Regions from separate parts of the Homo sapiens genome. Here region 2 is linked to region 1. Evidence: fine-mapped expression QTL. A gene starts in region 1. The other region holds a variant in brackets. All regions are shown on one strand. Distances are from middle to middle.

Region 1 (5,386 bases):
ACACTCAGATTGATTCCATAACTTGACTGTTTTGAATAGTGCTGCAATAAACATAGGAGTTCAATATCTCTCAGACTTCCTGATTTCAAATCTTTTGGATACATACCCTGGAGTAGAATTCCTGGATGTTATTTCTAACATTCTTAGTACAGTGCCTGGCACATAGAAAGCTTTCCAAACAGATAGCTACTCTTACTAGTAATGACTAGGAATGACTTATCACCTCAGTCATTGTTACTATTATAAAAACTACTCTATAAACTATTATGAACACCACTCATCTTGGTGTGCAAGATGAGCCAGAGATGGGAATAAGCTGGAGGAAGGGAGATCAGTTAGGAGGCCTCTGGAATAATCTAGGAAAGAATATTCTGTTTTCTGTCTGGTGCCCAGCTGTCGCTCAGAAGGAGCTTTAAAAAAAGTTTGTGGAATAAATGAAAAGGAAGACTGAGCAGAATTCAGTGATTGATTAGCTCAAAGAAACCAGGGAGCAAACGAAAGATAACTGCAAGACTTGGAGATTGAGTGACTGGAGAATTCTGGTACTATGGACACAAAGAAACCTTCTCTCTTTCCACCCCTCAGCTCTGCGTTCTCAGGCCATTGCTCACCTGACATCTTTGGATGGTTGGCCGCTTTTTGAATTTCACTCACTTGCTCAATGACTGTGGTGTGCAGGTCTGCTGCTTTGTCTTTTTCCAGAATGCCTTGTCATAACTATAGTAAAGGTATATCTGAATTTAGAACCCCGACAATTCAAAAATCTAAAACCCCACTTACAAATTGGGTTTGAATACATCTCTCAGGTTGCTTCCAAATCTTTCTTTCTTTTCTTTTCTTTTTTTTTTTTTCATTTTTAGATCATGTAGATGTCTCAGGGAAGACTTCAGCATCTGTGCCTCTGTTGGGGCATTAATAGAATCCTATGCTTTTACATCCATTATTGTATTTGGAACAAAATATCCTTTATGGTCATTTGGTATTATATATTTTCTGTTTTGTATATAATATGAAATTACATATACAGTCTATTTTAGGTCTCATATCATTATAAAACAAAACAACAACAGCAACAACAAAAATTTGGCTCAGCTTTTGGCTTTTATACTTCTGTCAACTTGTTATTTGTACTCTGACTCCAAAGACAATTGGAGAAACTTGGGAGCATAACACAAGATTTTATTTTAACCAATTGATCTGTCCACTGCTATGGACTGATTTTTGCACAAAGTAATAGCAGGTTGGGCTGATGCCATGGTTCTCTGATTTTCTTTTTCTTTTCTTTTCTTTTCTTTCTTTCTTTCTTTCCTTCTTTCTTTCTTTTCTTTCTTTTTCTTTCTTTTCTTTCTTCTTTCTTTCTTTCTTCCTTTCTTTCTTCCTTTTTCTTGAGTTTGATTATTCTGATTACTAAATGCCTTGCAATTTGAAAAAGAACAGAAGTTATGAGCTTGTACTAGGAATAGGTTAGCCAGGTTCAAGGGTCTCACAACATTTAGAAAGATTGTTTTTAAGAAAGAAATAAAAAAAAAGTCTTATAGAGAGATCAGTGACACTTCATAAACAAGTTTGCAATGCTGTCTACTAGTATAAATGACCGTACGTTGATCTGCCAGACTCATTGCCCGGCTGTTTTTGCCAGGGCACATATTTGTGAGACAGCTGCTCCGAACTAGGGAAGGTCAAGCAAAAACCACTGCCTGTCTAGAGATGGCTGTCCTGATGTCAGTCTCATTAGTTCCTGAGTTCTTGCCAAGTTAGTAAGAACTAGCATAGATCTGGAGGTCAAAGTTTAGCAGAAAGAGCCCCCACAGCAGTGTGCAAAGAGCTCTTTTTCTGTTCTACTCTTTTTTTCTCTACTGGTCACCTAGTTGGTGTGTAGCGTGTGTGTGTGTGTGTGTGTGTGTGTGTGTGTGTTTCCCAAATAGTACTTGAAGGATAGGAAATTAAATGTCTGTGGGAAAAAGCAACATTTTGGGTTCTCAGCATTTTAGTCAGCTGCTTTCTTACTTTTCCAGACTGTGACTATTCTTTGAAGCTATTAAAATCTATTCTTGGTAATGAGAAAAGGGAGTGACTTGATGGTTCTTTTCCAATTGCTCTGTGTCTGACAAGAAATACCTAAATACTTTAATTTGCCTTTTTAAATTTCCCCTAGTGGTGGCAAAACAATTCTACTCCTATTTGTCAGGGAAAAAAATCTCTGCCGTGAATTTCAGTGCTGGGAACATAACAAGACAAAAAGCTACCTGGGCTAGCCTGTTTCTCCAGGATGAAACAAAAGGAATATAGATTTTAGCGGCTGCTTTAACAGTTTGGTAAAGGATCTGGTCTATCTTGGGTGTGGGAGATGGGAGGGGTAAAGAGGTCAGAATACCATTTAGATCACAGACAGAAAGAAACCAGGAAGTAAGGGGAAATTATTACAGTCTGTTCATAGCTCAGAATGTTAAAGGCAACAGCCTCTGCTGGTTGGTTATTCATTAGCAAAAAGGAGAGAGCCGTCCAGATCCGGACTGGTCGAAAGACAGGAACAGACTTGAAACAGGGGGAGAGCTCCTGGCGAAAGCAAGACGTGGAGGTTTTACCAGGGGTTAGTAGCTTCCTCTTGCTAACTTTTTATTGGGACAAAAGGCAAGATGGCACCATTCTGTTCTCAGATATTTGTCTAAATAAAGCCCTTTTAATTTTATTTTATTTTTGTTGTGGGATTCTTAAGCAGATAAGAAGAAAAGACACCTTCCTAGTGAGCAGCTGCCCAGCTCCTGCTCAGTTTTGCCTCGGGGTAGCACCTCCAGCCACAGAAAGCAAGCCGGTAAGTCTCTCCAGGTAGGACTTGCTGCAACCCAGCTGCTGGACTGATCTGAAACGGGACTTTGCATACTCTCCGAAGTATGGTGAGTTGGTGCTGACTTCAAAGTTGCCTGGTGAAGGAAGATAAGGTGGATCGCAGAGACTAAGGGGAGAGGGAGAAGCCCTGCTCCTCTTCTCCCCACCAAGGCACAATGAGCAACATCTGTCAGAGGCTCTGGGAGTACCTAGAACCCTATCTCCCCTGTTTGTCCACGGAGGCAGACAAGTCAACCGTGATTGAAAATCCAGGGGCCCTTTGCTCTCCCCAGTCACAGAGGCATGGCCACTACTTTGTGGCTTTGTTTGATTACCAGGCTCGGACTGCTGAGGACTTGAGCTTCCGAGCAGGTGACAAACTTCAAGTTCTGGACACTTTGCATGAGGGCTGGTGGTTTGCCAGACACTTGGAGAAAAGACGAGATGGCTCCAGTCAGCAACTACAAGGCTATATTCCTTCTAACTACGTGGCTGAGGACAGAAGCCTACAGGCAGAGCCGTGAGTAGTACAAACTTATACTTAATTTCTGAACTCTCTGAGGGCTGGGTAATGAGTTTTCCTTTCTACTTCTCTACAACCCCCTAATGTCCAAAGAGTTGCCTAAAAAGTATGAGGAAGTACTGGCAAGAAACCACTAATTGAAACACACCTCCCCCGCTAAGTGAGTGTGAAACTGGCCAGTAATTGTTGTTGAGATGACTTCAATTACAGTATGTACATCCACAGGTCCAGGGTGTATTTTCAAAATAAACAAATGATGTGTTTAATACTGTACCTTCTCTTTGGCTGTAAAATAACTCATGCCTCACTTTAGCAATAAAATTGCATTTTGTTTGAAGGTAAATTATAAGACTTCCCTTAATGATATTCTCAAATCTAAACTTCAGATTCTTTTTTTTAAAAAAAACTTTTGAAACATTCCAGGGTAATATATCAACTCTAGCCCTAGCTCTAATCCTAATCCCTTTCATTCTGATGGGAATATACAGGGCTAATGTAGAAGACAACACTTAGAAGATACTAATGTTCTCAGTGACATCATGATATAGATTTTTTTTTAATTCCCAGATCCTGAGATATGCTACCCAAATTATGATATCTTTTGGTTTTTATTATGATTAGAAACTGGCCAGCTACAGACATTTGGTAAATTTTGATAGGAAAAAGGACAACATCTCCTTGAAGAGGAGATAAAGACTTTATCCTGGTATTTGAATGAAATATGAATTATATTGCAACAAAAGAGGAAAGTTTTTATGTACTTATTCACCCATCCATCCATCCATCCATCCATCCACCTACCACCCCTCCAAGTGCCAGGCATAGACAGTAGTGGGCCTGGTGAGTTGGGGAGGGTAAAGGAGATTATTCTAGTAGTGACTGAATACAAAGTGGATAAAACATAGTCTTGACAATGGATACTTGGGGTCTGGTGGGTTGGGAAGCAAATGGAGACTGTCATTGGCCCTGATCTCATTGCTTCCTGAATCCAGTGAAACCTTAGACTGGGAATGTCTTTCAAAAAATGTACTCATTTTTTTTTTTTTTTTTTTTTGAGACGGAGTCTCGCTCTGTCCCCCAGGCTGGAGTGCAGTGGCGCGATCTCGGCTCACTGCAAGCTCCGCCTCCCGGGTTCACGCCATTCTCCTGCCTCAGCCTTCCAAGTAGCTGGGACTACAGGCGCCTGCCACCACGCCCGGCTAATTTTTTTGTATTTTTAGTAGAGACGGGGTTTCACCGTGTTAGCCGGGATGGTCTCGATCTCCTGACCTCGTGATCCGCCCGCCTCGGCCTCCCAAAGTGCTGGGATTACAGGCGTGAGCCACCGCGCCCGGCCAAAATGGACTCATTTTATAGAATGGTTTCTTAATAGGGAAACCATTGGAGATTCTCTTATGTTCTCATGTAAGTGTTTCTTATTTTTATGTGAGCGTCCCTTACTGGTCCAGGGAATAAGATAATAATAAATAGCCATAGAGCATTGTTTCTGCTTTCCAAACTCATACATCACATATGAAGGGAGGTTTGACGAGTTTTGAGTTTTGAGATTCTTTTCAACACCAAGAACCTATAAATGTTTAGAAGGGTCTTAATTTATGCTTAAATAGAAATGAATTGAAATATACTTTTAATGAATGGAATTGATCAGTTATCAAGTGGGAAAATCACCTGTGTGAACATTTGCTTTCTGTGATAATCTACAGGAAATATCTTTATATATTGGATACACTTATGTGCATTTATCTGTTTTCACTACTTTATGATTTCTATGTCCTGTATGGCATTATGCATATTTTATATTTGGCATAACATGTATATTATAATAATAATATATTAATGTTTCATGCCTTGAATTCATAATCTGTTAGTTTTAAATATATTCAACTCATATAACTACTTAGGACCTCAATTTCCTCATCTGCAACTCTCTGGGGTTGCCATGACCAATGGATTTCCTGACTATCTGGGAACAGGAGCTCTTATGTTCGTATGTAGTGGTTCAGTTACATTCATGCTTGACTGTATTAGAAATGCTGA
Region 2 (5,386 bases), 43 kb after region 1:
GTCTTTGTCTTCATTCTCTTTGGCTCTTCATGTCACAATGATTTTGTAATACTGTTTTCTATAGATGGAATAAATCATAATTTGGTTTTACTTTTGAAATGTTTGATCAATTTTTTTGTTGTTGATAGTTTAGAAAAGTTTCTTTAAGATCATAATTTATTATTGGTAATAGCTGCACATTTAGGATTGCAAATAAATATTTATTTGAATCTCATTTTGCTTTCTGTTTTCAAATTTTAATCCTTATGCAACCAAGCCTACCTCTAAATAACAAATAGGAGTTAATGTTTAACTTCATAAACAGATATTCTGTTATTCTACAGGAACATTTTTAGAACCTGAAGTTTGGGTCTTAATAAGTCATAACTATTGGCTATTTCTGACCCACTCTGTAGAGTGGTATTATTATTTGAGGACAAGTCCATACTCCCCACTTTCTATTCTGCACAATTTTAGTGAAGTCACATGTAACTGCTTTGCACATCTGCCAACACACTGGCTCTGCTTATTATTTCTGCATGACAAATCATGCAATTTCTCTCATTTCTAGTTCCCTTTTCCACAAAGTGGGGATTTTGAAGCACTTGCTCTGACTATCCCCAAGAGTTGCCTTGAGAATAAGTGCCATATTCTAGGTGATGGCACTCAATTATAAAGTGGAATCCAAATGTTATTCTTTACATGATTGTTATAATTGTCATCGTCGTCATAGGATTGTGATCATCTGATTGGCTATGAGGTTATTCATTACTGGTAAAAGTGGACTTGTTCTTTTGCTCTCTGTACCAAATCTTCAGTATATTCTCTCTATATTCTTGTCCTACGTTTTGAAATTATTTGGTCAGCTTTTTAACTTTCAAGTGGAAGACTCACATCCTCAAATAATCATCTGTTTATTCATTCAACAGTATGAATGCAAGTTTATTTAATACCATGTGTTGTGCTAGGCTCTTGGAATTTCAGTGATAAGTAAAAGATAAGGTTTCCACTCTCTTGAGCTTACATGTGTAATGGGAAGTAGGAATTAATCAAATAATACCAAAAACAAAGTAAGCTAAGGAAAGAGCTATGAAGGAAAGGAACAAGGTGCTCAGACTCATTTGATCTGTAGAGGAAGGCTTTCCTACCACAAGCCCCTTGCCTTGCCATCCAAAGAATGCACTGGAGATAAGTCAGAGGGGAGCTGGCTTGTGCAATGAATCTATTATCATTCACCTTCAGAGAAATATGCTCCTCAAGCTTACTTGAAGCTCTAATTCTAAGGCTTTAGGATGTTCCTTTACTGTGCCCTCTTTCCAACAGCAGGTCTCTTCAAATCTATAAGATTTTAAAATCCTTTCCTGGGTCACAGTGAACAGGTCAGATTTTATTATGCTCTGAGTATTTCAATGATTAAAAAAAAATTATCCCAGGCAAAGAGCATGGTGGAAATGTCTTTGTATCACTAAAATTCTGGAATAAAATTTTATTTAATTGCAATATGCTTACTAGTAAGGCAGTCATTGAGGCAGGGAATATTTCAGTTTCTCAAAACACATATTTGTATATAAATAGTTTACATGCTATTTACAAATAATATTTCCATTGTGTATTATTAGAGTATATCCTCTTATGAAAACACTTTGTAAGAGAGCAAACATTTTAGTCTACTTCAAGACACTTATAATTTTAATAAACTGAATTATTTAAAACACAAATATAACTGGAAGGACTCTGCCTTTCACCCTTACCCCAGGGTATAGGCTTGTTCTGGACAGCGAGAGGATGCATAATTCTGTTGCTACCATCTGCTATGGATAATGGTGTGAGAAGAGCTTTGCCTAAGGATTTGATGTGCTAAAGAAAATTCTGTTTTCAAAGCTCTGGCTGTTTGTGCTGCTGAGAATAAAGACATGGAATAGATGGGCCTTAATTGAGCAGAACAATTTAAGAAGTGCTGGGGTATACAGAGGGAGACCCAGAATCTAGTTTGGAGTAAGGGTTGGGTAGGAAATCAAACTGCTTTGCATACAGAAACATGGAGAATTTTGTTGTAAAATCCCTGGCACAGAGAAAGGAGGAAGAGGAGTGGTTCCTCAGCAACCTATTAGGGGGCCCTAGACATAAGGGAAAAAGTTTTGGGAAATTCCCTCTTCAGCAGAAAGGACATTAAATTTCAATGAACAGAAATTTCTGGTATCTGTTTGAACTTGTTTTCTGCTCTGTATTGTACTTAAAGCTTTGCTCTTCACAAATTTTATACAGCATTTGGATTGAATTTGTAATGTTTTGTAAGGGTTGAAAATAAAGAAGTGGGGTCCAGTGTGAGGCAGTGTGAGGCAGAGTGGACTGGAGAGAAAAAGGTGCAAGGTGGGCTATGGCAGGATGACTCAGGATTTAGGAGAAGATGTTAAGAGAAAGTCCCCCTCTTCTAGAAACAGCTGTGTTTTTCAAATTGTAGTACCTTGGTTACCTGCCTCTGAATTGCCTGTGGCACTTGGGAACCTACAGCATCCTGAGCTCTACCTCCGACCTTCTTAGACTATTTGCCTTGTACACACTTCCTGGGACAGTCTTCAGAAACTGGAGTTTGAGAACTGAGGCCCTAGAGAAGGTTAATCCTTAGGTAGTGATAAAAGAAAAACCTCGACAAATTAAACTTAGCAGAGTTTAACTGGGCAAAGAACTGTTGGCAAATCAGGCAGTCTCCTGAGCCAGAGTGTGCTCAGACAGAGTCCAGCTGGTGGAAAGGGACTTATGGAGAGAAAAAGAAAAGCGATGTAGAAAAATTGAAAAGAGGTACAGAAACAGCTGGATTGGTTACAGCTCGGTGTTTGCCTTATTTTGAACAGGGTTTGAACAGTTGGCCACCTTTGGTTGCTCAAAACTTGGTGATTGGCACAAGAGTAGGTTACAGTCTGTTTGCACATCCATTTAGGTTGCAGTTCACTGTGTACAGAGAAACCTTTAGGCTGAACTTAAAACGTGTAAGGAGACAGCTTTCTGCTTGATTTAACAGTAACACGGGTGTGTGTTGGGAGGTAGGGAGGTGGGGGCTCTT[TCTTC/C]TCTCAGTCTGCCTTTTTCCACAACAGTTCTGAGGAGTAAGCTTGTAATGTATTTGTGCAACTGCTTCTTTCTGTAATTCTAAGCAGGAGCAAGCAGTAAACTAATTTTCAGATTTCAGAAAAGTCCATCAGTGCAGGCAGAGCCTTCCTTTTGTTTCCTGACAAATAGTTTGTTGACACTGAAAACAAAAGATGTGTTTTCTGGCACTGTTTCAGGCTTTCTTTTTGAGAACAAGCTGCTCTGTGGATGTGTTCAGTTTCTACTATTTCAAAGTCCAGTGGGTGGCATTTACATGGGTTTTAAACTATCTTTAGTTATTAACATTGGTGTTATTATTGGTAATTATTCATGATAGTAATGCTTAGTGAGTATCTGGGTATACAGGGCTAAATTATTAAAAAGAAAGAAAGAAAGAAAGAATGAAGGAAGAAAGAAAGAGAACGTGTGTGCTTGTTCTGACCTGTAGCAGACCAGGTCTCACACCTTGACTCCCTGGGGGCACCTGCTTCATTTTAATCCCCCCAAAGCAGTAAAACTAGTACATATCTGTACATCCATGTTGGTATCTGCAGCTACACACACACACACAAACACACACACACATCCATCCACTCATTCACATATATGTGTGTGTGTCTCTGTGTCATGTATGGATTAAGATTAGACAGTATAGTTTTTAAAATTATTTTTTATTGGTACATAAAAGATGTACATATTCTCTGGGTACATGTGATAATTTGATACATTAATATAATCTGAATTGGAATATCCATTACCTTAACTATTTCTCTTTTCTTCATGCTAGGAACATTCAAATAAGGAACAGTAGATTAATGTTAACTATAGTCAACCTACTATAGAGATTGTGCTCTGCTGTACTTTGGCCTCCTTTAGCCACAGCTGGAGCTGGAGCAGCTGAGACATAGGGCACCAAGTCCAGAAGGTGCACAGAGCAGCAGGACCCTGTACCCAGCCCATGAGACCATTTTTCTCTTTTAGGCCTCTGGACCTGTGATGGGAGGGGCTGCCATGAAGATCTCTGGCATGCCTTGGAGACATTTTCTTCATTGTCTTGGCTATTAACATTTGGCCCCTGGTCACTTAAGCAAATTTCTGCAACTGGGTTGAATTGCTCCCCAGAAAATGGGCTTTTCTTTTCTACCACATGATCAGGCTGCAAATTTTCCAAACTTTTATGCTCTGCTTCCCTGATAAATAAAAGTTCCAGTTTCAGATAATCTCTTGGTGAATGCATATGACTGACTGCTTTCAGAATCAGCCAGGTCACATCTTGGATGCTTCACTGCTTAGAAATCTCTTCTGCTAGATACCCTAAATCATCTCTGTCAAGTTCACAATTCCACAGATCACTAGGGCAGGGACAAAATGCCACCAGTCTCTTTGCCAAAGCATAGCATGAGTGACCTTTACTCCAGTTCCCAATAACTTCCTCATTTCTATCTGAGACCAACTGAGCCTGGAATTCATTGTCCATATTACTATCAGCATTTTGATCAAAACTGTTCAACAAGTGTCTAGGAAGTTCCAAACTTTCCTACATATTCCTGTCTTCTTCTGAGCCCTCCAAACTGTCCAACATCTGCCTGTTACCTAGTTCCAAAGTTGCTTCCACATTTTCAGTTTTTCTTTATAGCAGTGCCCCACTCTACTGCTATCAATTTTCTGTATTAGTCCGTTCTCACACAGCTATAAAGATATTACCTGAGACTGGATAATTTATGAAGAAAAGAGGTTTAATTGTCTCACAGTTCTGGATGGCTGGGGAAGACTCGGGAAACTTACAATCATGGTGGAAGGGGAAGCAAGGCACATCTTACATGGTGGCAGGAGAGAGAGAGTTCAGAGAAACTGCCACTTTTAAACCATCAGCTCTTGTGAGAACTCACTACCATGAGAACGGCATGGGAAGAAACACCCTCATGATCCAGTCATCTCCCACCAGGTCCCTTCCCCAACACATGGGGATTATAATTAGAGAGAGATTTGGGTGGGGACACAGAGCCAAACCATATCAATAAGTAAATTTTGAATAAAAAATGAATAAGTGATTTTCAAGGTGGTAGGTTGTGGTTGTGGCCTTGGCACCAGCTCGTGTAAATACAGAAGAAACACTTGGCCTTATTGAAAGAGTTGGTTAGTTTCTTTCACAGGCATTTCTGAGAATTTAATAAAACAATGGATTATCTCCCCGGAAAAAAATGCATGTACTCATTAAAACACCTTTGCCTGTAGATCCTTATGAAAATTTCTTTTCACCTCTAAAGTTTGGACCAAGTCTCTTTTTTGTTTCTAGTCATGGAAGAATTCCTCTTTGCTTTCA

Evidence for each region. PIP is the estimated chance that this variant, and not a neighbour inherited with it, causes the effect.
Region 2: its variant is fine-mapped to the expression of FRK in subcutaneous fat (GTEx, PIP 0.93).

The regions. Positions count from the first base shown.
Region 1 is chr6:116,057,928-116,063,313 of GRCh38, reverse strand. FRK (fyn related Src family tyrosine kinase) reads left to right here and starts at 2,423. Exons shown (of 8, transcript NM_002031.3): 1 at 2,423-3,346. The coding sequence starts at 3,003.
Region 2 is chr6:116,014,808-116,020,193 of GRCh38, reverse strand. The region is part of intron 1 of FRK (fyn related Src family tyrosine kinase); the gene reads left to right. Among named protein-coding and RNA genes, the nearest start is that of FRK, 43 kb to the left of the region's middle. The variant TCTTC/C (reference allele first, on the strand shown) is at 3,041.